2 linked regions of the Homo sapiens genome follow. The protein of the gene in region 2 purifies or fractionates together with the protein of the main gene of each other region. This does not show direct contact. Each region holds a gene or a part of one and is shown on either strand. Other genes may lie near its edges.

Evidence for each region.
Region 1: the proteins of RLF (region 2) and ZNF280D purify together in Homo sapiens (affinity purification with mass spectrometry, with the first as the bait; one large-scale study listed by BioGRID). This does not show direct contact.

The regions. Positions count from the first base shown.
Region 1 is NC_000015.10:56,660,438-56,664,265, forward strand, and holds part of ZNF280D (zinc finger protein 280D), read right to left. Parts: intron 1-3,828. UniProt on the Homo sapiens protein: May function as a transcription factor.
Region 2 is NC_000001.11:40,188,779-40,192,606, reverse strand, and holds part of RLF (zinc finger protein Rlf), read right to left. Parts: intron 3,553-3,828; coding exon 3,398-3,552; intron 1,836-3,397; coding exon 1,754-1,835; intron 1-1,753. UniProt on the Homo sapiens protein: May be involved in transcriptional regulation.

The sequences.
Region 1 (3,828 bases), on a different chromosome or scaffold from region 2:
TTTCTCATCTATAAAAAGGGATTTCTACCACCTGCTTGATTTCTCTGTATTTAATTCCATACTTATAGTTTTGTGTATCACAGGAAGGGAAAAGTGAATTCACAGCTCACACATAAAAAGGAAAAAAAAATACTACCCTTCTTCCTATTAGCTCTCCATAAAGGTAATAGCAATATAGAAATAAATCTAAGAAAGGTTTTTTATTACAATATAGTAAAAATATAATGTTAAAACCTAATTTTTTAAAAAAATCCCTTACTTGATTAGCTGACAGTATATAATTATCAAAACTCATTAAGCAATTCTCTAAAAATAGGTGAATTTTATTGTGTATAAATTATACCTCAAGAAAACTGAGGTCAAAAACCTCCTCTAATCATATTTTCTTCATAATCTTGATTCCACATAAGTAACAACCTTACTTTCTAAGAAACATAAAAGGAACAATTTCCTTAAAAATTTTAAGACATTAGACTAGAGGCCGATGATACAACAACAAAGGCAAGCTGCCTGCCCTAGAGTTTATGGTTGCTTGGGGGGAGTGTTTGGGGGAGAAAGGGGATGGCACAGAATGAATGCCCAAAAAATATTTGCTAAATCAATGAATACATATTCATAAATAATTAACACAAGATAAAAGTCAATAGTGACACATACAGAGTTTGTGGTTGCATGAAGGAAAGCTGCAAGACAGATGGGGTAGAAGCCAGCTAACAATTAGGAGTTCACTGCAGTTAGAAGACTCTTACTGCTTCACTTCCAGGCAAAGCAAAGAGTAACTGTGAAGATATAGAAGAATTTTCAAGAGAATAAAAGGAGTTGAAGGAGTTGAAAAGTAGTTAGGAATCTGATATGGAAAGGTGTTATATTTTCCAGAAAATCTGAAGTTCATTCTATCAATGTTAGGAAAGGATTTTAGGCCAAAGAATGACCTGACCAGATTTGCCTACAGCAAAAGAAAGGATGAACTGGAAAAAAGGGGGAAAACTGTAGGCAGAAGACATAATAGTCTAACTAGTCCTATGATTATCATTTAGTGTCAATAAATTTCTGTAAAATTTATAATGAAGTCAAGCAGACCTTTTTAAAATTCAGTACTCTGTCGTACCTACTGTGTAAGAAACAAATTTTTATACTAGCTTTCTTTTTCCTTGGAAATTTTAAAAATCATCCCTCAAAGCCTAAGTGAAATTTACAGAAAATCTTCCCTTATTTCTTGTTTAAAGATTTCATCTTTACCTCCTCCGTACTTTCATAGTCATTTGTTTATCACAATAACCTAGGTAAATTTATTTCCCCTTCTAAATTGTGAAAATTACAGTCAGGAACTCCCCCAATCCTAATAATGACAACTTAGAAATTAATAGCTATCATTACTTGAATATCTCTTAAGTGCAAATTGTTATTAAGCACTTTAATACAGTTTTTCTAAAAGTCACAATAACTTTCTTTTCAAGAAATGCAATCTGAGAGTCAGATTAAGTAATTTGTTCAAAGTTCCACATGTATACAGTGAAGGTTGGATTCAAATCCAGACTTGTTTGATTCTTCACCCCCAGCTTGCCATACTTCTTAGCAAATTGTATTAAATACCTTCCTAGTAGGTACATAATAAAATACATGAACCTGGTTGAAATAATAAAACTCTGCTACAAAAAAGAGATACTGCTTATGTATGTTAACTTAATTCTCTTTTATGTAAAGAAAAATGCTTCTTATACATCATTTTGAGGAATAATAGCAAGATTATAGAGCAATTTATGTGCATTTTTTTCAGATAATTTCTATTACTACCTAAAAGCTATAAGCCAATAAGGTACAATAATTTAAAGAACTGAACCTAAAAAATGCTGCTTAAAAAAAATTAAAAATTACACATTTAATGATGCTTTTCTTTGAAAAGATCTTACTCCAACAATACTCCAACTGCTTCAAGATTTTTGAACACCTTCTTCTGAGATTTTATTTAGGACCTTTTATAATTAAAACAAATAATGACTATCACCTGCAGTTTGTAATGTGCTAGGTGATATGATAAATACAAAGACCCCCTTCTTCTCAAGAAGATAATACAAACACAAATAAATACAATAAAAGGCAAAATAGGGCCAGGCACGGTGGCTCATGCCTGTAATCCAGCACTTTGGGAGGCCAAGGCGGGTGGATCAACTGAGGTCAGGAGTTTGAGACCAGCCTGGACAACATGGTGAAAGCCCATCTCTACTAAAAATACAAAAATTAGCTGGGCATGTTGGCGGCACCTGTAATCACAGCTACTTGGGAGGCTGAGGCAGGAGAATTGCGTGAACCTGGGAGGTGGAGGTTGCAGTGAGCCAAGATCTTGCCACTGCACTCTAGCCTGGGTGACAGGTGACAGAGCAAGACTCTGTCTCAAAAAAAAAAAAAAAAAAGGCAAAATAGATGAATAGTACACAATTCAAAGAAAGTAACGGCTGTGGTGATCAGACACTTGAAAAAAGAAGGTAAACTGAGAGGAAGGAACAGGGTATTCTGGGAACTAACAAGGAATACCGAATAGTCACTGTAGAAAACAAACATGGGGCCAGGTGCAGAGGGGGTGCTCAGCTATAATCATTGCACTTTAAGAGGCTAGAGTAGGCAGATCACTTAAGCCCAGGAGCCCATGACCAGCCTGGGCAAAATGGAAAAAATCCCATCCCTACAAAAAAAAAAAATTATCTGAGCATGGTAGTGCATGCCTGTAAGTCCCAGCTACTCAAGACGCTGAGGTGGGAGGATCACCTGAGCCCAGAAGGTTGAGGCTGTAGTGAACTGTGATGGAGCCACTGCACTCCAGCCTGGGTTGGAGTGAGACCCTTTCTCAAAAAAAAAAAAAAAAAAGGAAAAAAGAAAGAAAATTAATATGGAAGAAACTATACTCTGTGGAAGATTAACCAACTTACAGGGATGGATTGGGGCAGGTATGAGACCAAAGGGAAAAAGACCAATTGAGAGGCTACAGAGTTAGTACGGGATAGGAATTAAAGGTTCTCATGCTTTGGAGAAAATCAGGCTTCTGTATATATAAACCTCAAACTTCTAACAAGAATCAACACTGCAGAGAAGAGTTCGCCATTCAGTGGGATGCACCTAATGCAATGAGGGAAGCAAGGGTACCACTGAGGTTGAGAAAAAGACAAAAAGACCTACCCAACCCTAAGAGTGGCAATGGAAGCTTTTAGTTCCATATGACACTAAGAGCTGTGTGTGATGACAATGAACAAGAATTTCTTGTATATTGCAAACTAATTAGAAGAGTATATTTTGAATGTTCCCATCACAAAGAAATGATAAATGTAGCTGGGCATGGTGGCACACACCTATATGGCTACTCAGGAGGCTAACACAGGAGGATCACTTCAGCCTAGGAGTTTGAGGTTGCAGTGAGCTTTGACTGCAAGACCTAGCACTCTGGGGTGACAGAGTGAGACCCCATCTCACAAAAAAAGAAAAAGAAGAAGAAATGAAGAAATGATAAAATTGGAAGTGATGGATATCCCTGGGTTTATTACATATTGTATGCTTGTAACAAAATATCACATGTACTCCACAAATATGAAGTAGTCTCTATAAAAATTTTTAAATTAATTAATTTCACATGGCTGTCAGGAACATTAAACAAATTAAGTTTTAAAAAGTGAGTGACAACAATGTCAAATACTCTAAAGAAGTCACAGAGGAGTAAGAATGAAAAATAGGGAGTAAATATGGTGATATGTTCATAACAGATAATCTTTAAAAGAGGAATGTTAGTTGGTAGGTGGGGGCAATACTCAAAAGGTAAAGAAATGAATCACAATAAAGCTG
Region 2 (3,828 bases):
AAGTGGAAAAAGAGGCAACTATTTTATTCAAGCAAGCTAAGAAAATAATAAAGAAATATGAGAGATTTCCCTCTAAAAAGGATAGAGGTTGAGTGTCCCTAATCCAAAAATCTGAAATCCAAAATGTTCCTCAAATCCAAAACTTTGTAAGCATCAACACGATACTCAAAAGAAATGCTCACTGGAGCATTTCGGATTTTCAGATTAGGGATGCTGAACTACTAAGTGTAATGCAAATATTCCAAAATCCAAACTACTCCTAAGCATTTGAGATATGGGATACTCAAACAGTATTAATATAGTAGTAATAGTCCTAATTAGGATTTGCCCTTCTAGGATGCCATATGCCAGAACAAAACGACTGGCAGGCTTCAGAACACAGAGTGACAAAAATCAAAGTGCTACGCATGAAAGATGATTTTAGCAGCTGTACGGATATGTGAGATATTAGGACTGCATTACAGGGCTTTAAATAGGCCAAGAACATGACAAAGAATCCTCTTCTCACTAAAGAGAACATTATATCATTTCATTTTGGGTTATGTATTCCAGAGGAAAGAAATGTTCAGATAATGAAGTGTGTCTGTTAATATGCATGTCTTTATTTGTGCCTCCATGAAACAGGTCTAAGCTGTGTCCTCAAGGAAGTAGTTAGCAAAGTAAGCTCAGGGTTTGAAATCTGTGTGTAACTTTGTCCAAGCTAATTAACCTCTCTTCACCTGTCTCCCCATTTGTAAATGGAGATTCAAATAATTCTCACACTATAAGGTTTGTAATTTGATTAGAAGATATAAAACAAGTAAAATGTAGTGTAAAGCAGTGATTGGTACATAATTAGTGATCAATAAATGAATGACTGCATGCATTTATTTTTAGAGACGAGTCCTATTATTTTAGGGATGAGCCCTGTCACCCAGGCTGGAGTGCAGTGGTGTGATCATATCTCACTGCAGCCTCGGACTCTTGGGCTTAAGAGATTCTCTTGCCTCAGCCTCCTGAGTAGCTGGGACTATAGGTATGTACCACCATGCCCGGTCTATTATTTATTATGTCTTTTTTTTTTTTTTCCGAGACAGAGTCTCACTCTGTTGCTCAGGCTGGAGTGCAGTGGTGCGATCTTGGCTCACTGCAACCTCTGCCTTCTGGGTTCAAGCGATTATCCTGCCTGAGCCTCCCAAGTAACTGGGATTACAGGTGTCCGCCACCATGCCCGGCTAATATTTGTATTTTTAGTAGAGACAGGGTTTCGGCATGTTGGCCAAGCTGGTCTCGAACTCCTGACCTCAGGTGATCCACTTGCCTTGGCCTCACAAAGTGTTGGGATTACAGCCGTGAGCTACTACACCCAGCCAGGTACAATTCTTAAAGTGTTAGGAAGAAAAAGGTGAACCTTAGATGTAATGAAATAGTGTTTTGTATATTGAAGGTTACCAATAAGTATGCTATGAAGGATCCAAATACTGTTACTTTATAATCATGTATGATTTTGATAGCTTTATGCTGTCTAAACTTTATGTTTGAATAATGAAACTTTTTTGTTGATTTCTAACTATGTAGAGGCAAACAAAACCAAATTTAAAAAACCCATTTTTAATACATCCCCTTCATGTGAAGGGCCTTTTTATCATTTCATGACCTAATATCAATATATAATAAACTTGTTTTTGTTCTAAGGTTCCAATTTTAGTTTGCTGGGAGTAATTAATTAGGTGTCTTGGATACAGAAAACTTTTCTGAGTTAAAATCAACTCACCTGTAGAGACTGAAGGAATGGTAGCCAGACTTCACATGGCAGTTCACTTTCAGACACTGAAAGCAGTAATTCGAAACAACTCCTACAATAAAAATGAGTAAGTATATAAAGGTGGTTATAGTAATAATTAAGTAGAGTATGACAGCAATACTAAAAATCTATTTTACATTTGTTTAGGCTATTTTAAATGTTTTTACTCTTCAAAATTTGCTTCAGAGTTGTTATATTGACTGTTCAATTTAAAAAGGAGGAAAAAAAGAAAGACCACAAGGCTTTATATTTACATTGTTGCTTTAGTACATTTGGTAAGAATATAATAAGCTCTTTAGAAATCACATTCCAAGCAGTTTTATTTTGTTTATTTGGGTGTGAAGAGGCACCCATATAGGACAATTCTAATTCCAGTAGACAAAAATGGGAGCTCATACTACTGTCAATTCAGCTGATAAAATGATAAATGATAAATATATGTAACTGTTATCTATAGGTTTCTGTCACTTGCAGAGGAAGCAGGAAGACTGGCAAAGTCGTTTCTTTACCTGTAAAAAAAACCAAGCAAAAGAGTTTCCTTTTTCTGACTATTATCCAGAAGACACAGAAAAGAAATAACAGGAAGATTTTTTTGAAAAAAGAAATGCACTACAACTTGAATAATGAGCAACTCAAAATACCAATGAATCAACATCTCTCTAAAACCCTACAGAATAATCCTTTACCCCTTAGGGATTACAATAGGTAAAACAGAAACTAGGACTTGGTAGAAGGAAAAATATGATCATAAAACCAGGAATGCTGGTCTTCCATAAAGGGCCACTGGAAAATAGGAAGGAAAACAGGTGAGGCTAGAAAAAAAATAAAATAAACCATCTAGACTAGAAGTCATCTCACTAAACAATCTGTAAGTTGAACAAGGTGATGCCCAGCTAAAACTGATTGGCTGTTGTATCTTTTCAATTTGCAGATGAAAATTACAATAAAGGTGTAATTTTGTCTGCTACTATGCAGCTAAATATTAAAATAACAGCTAAATCACGTTCTTTTTTTTTTGTTGTTGAGACAGTCTCCACTCCACCACCCAGGCTGGAGTGCAGTGGCGCCATCTTGGCTCACTGCAACCTCCACCTCCCAGGTTCAAGCGATTCTCGTGCCTCAGCCTCTTCCCAAAGTGCTGGGATTACAGGCGTGCGCCACCATGCCCGCGCTAAATCATGATCTCTTTCTTAGGATGGTAATCTTATACTGTACCCTGATATTTTTTGCTAATAAAATTATTCTTAGTTCAAATATAATCAAATTGCAGAATTTCATGTTGTTTTTGCCAAGATGTTCTTCAAGGACTACCAGTTTCCAGGTATTCTGTCATTTAAATCAATCTATACCTAAGGGATAGAAATATATCATTCTCAGATTCCAAGCCTGAATAGGAAAAGAGACTCTAGAGGCAAGTTAAAGATGATGTTGCTTGGCTGGAGCTTCACTTGGACTATATCTCCTGGGAACGTGAGTAGGAAGGAAATTTCATTCAATGGTATGACTCTAATGGTGCTCTGAAGAATAAATGTGATGCCACTGTAAAGAGAAACCAGGCAAACAACACGACCAATGGTACTCAATTTTAAGAGTGATTTAAGTTCTCAAACTTACAGTACTAATCTGCCAAGCACTAAGAGGACATCTTCACATTCAGTAGTTAAGTATGGACGTGCACTGGCAAAGCTTTGGATGGCAAGTCGATATACCTCCAGAAGATACACAATATGTTCTGATGCATTCTTGTTGCTTGCATATTGCAATAAGGTCTACAAAATAAAATTAAAAATTATTTACAAATAAAAATAATGAAACAGATTGTCTTTGTCCTCAAACACACCACATAGCTCTCCCATTTTTTTTCTAACAGATGCATATACCTTTTATTTGCCTTTTAAGGCTCTGGTTTGTTTAGAAGCTTCTATTTTCATCACTTAATGAATGATTTCTGCTGAGTTAAAGAAATGGCAGAACTACTCTTTTGATGTCAGAATAATTCTAAGAGTAGAGCCATAAAATGTCTAGTTGTTCTCACTATAGGTCTG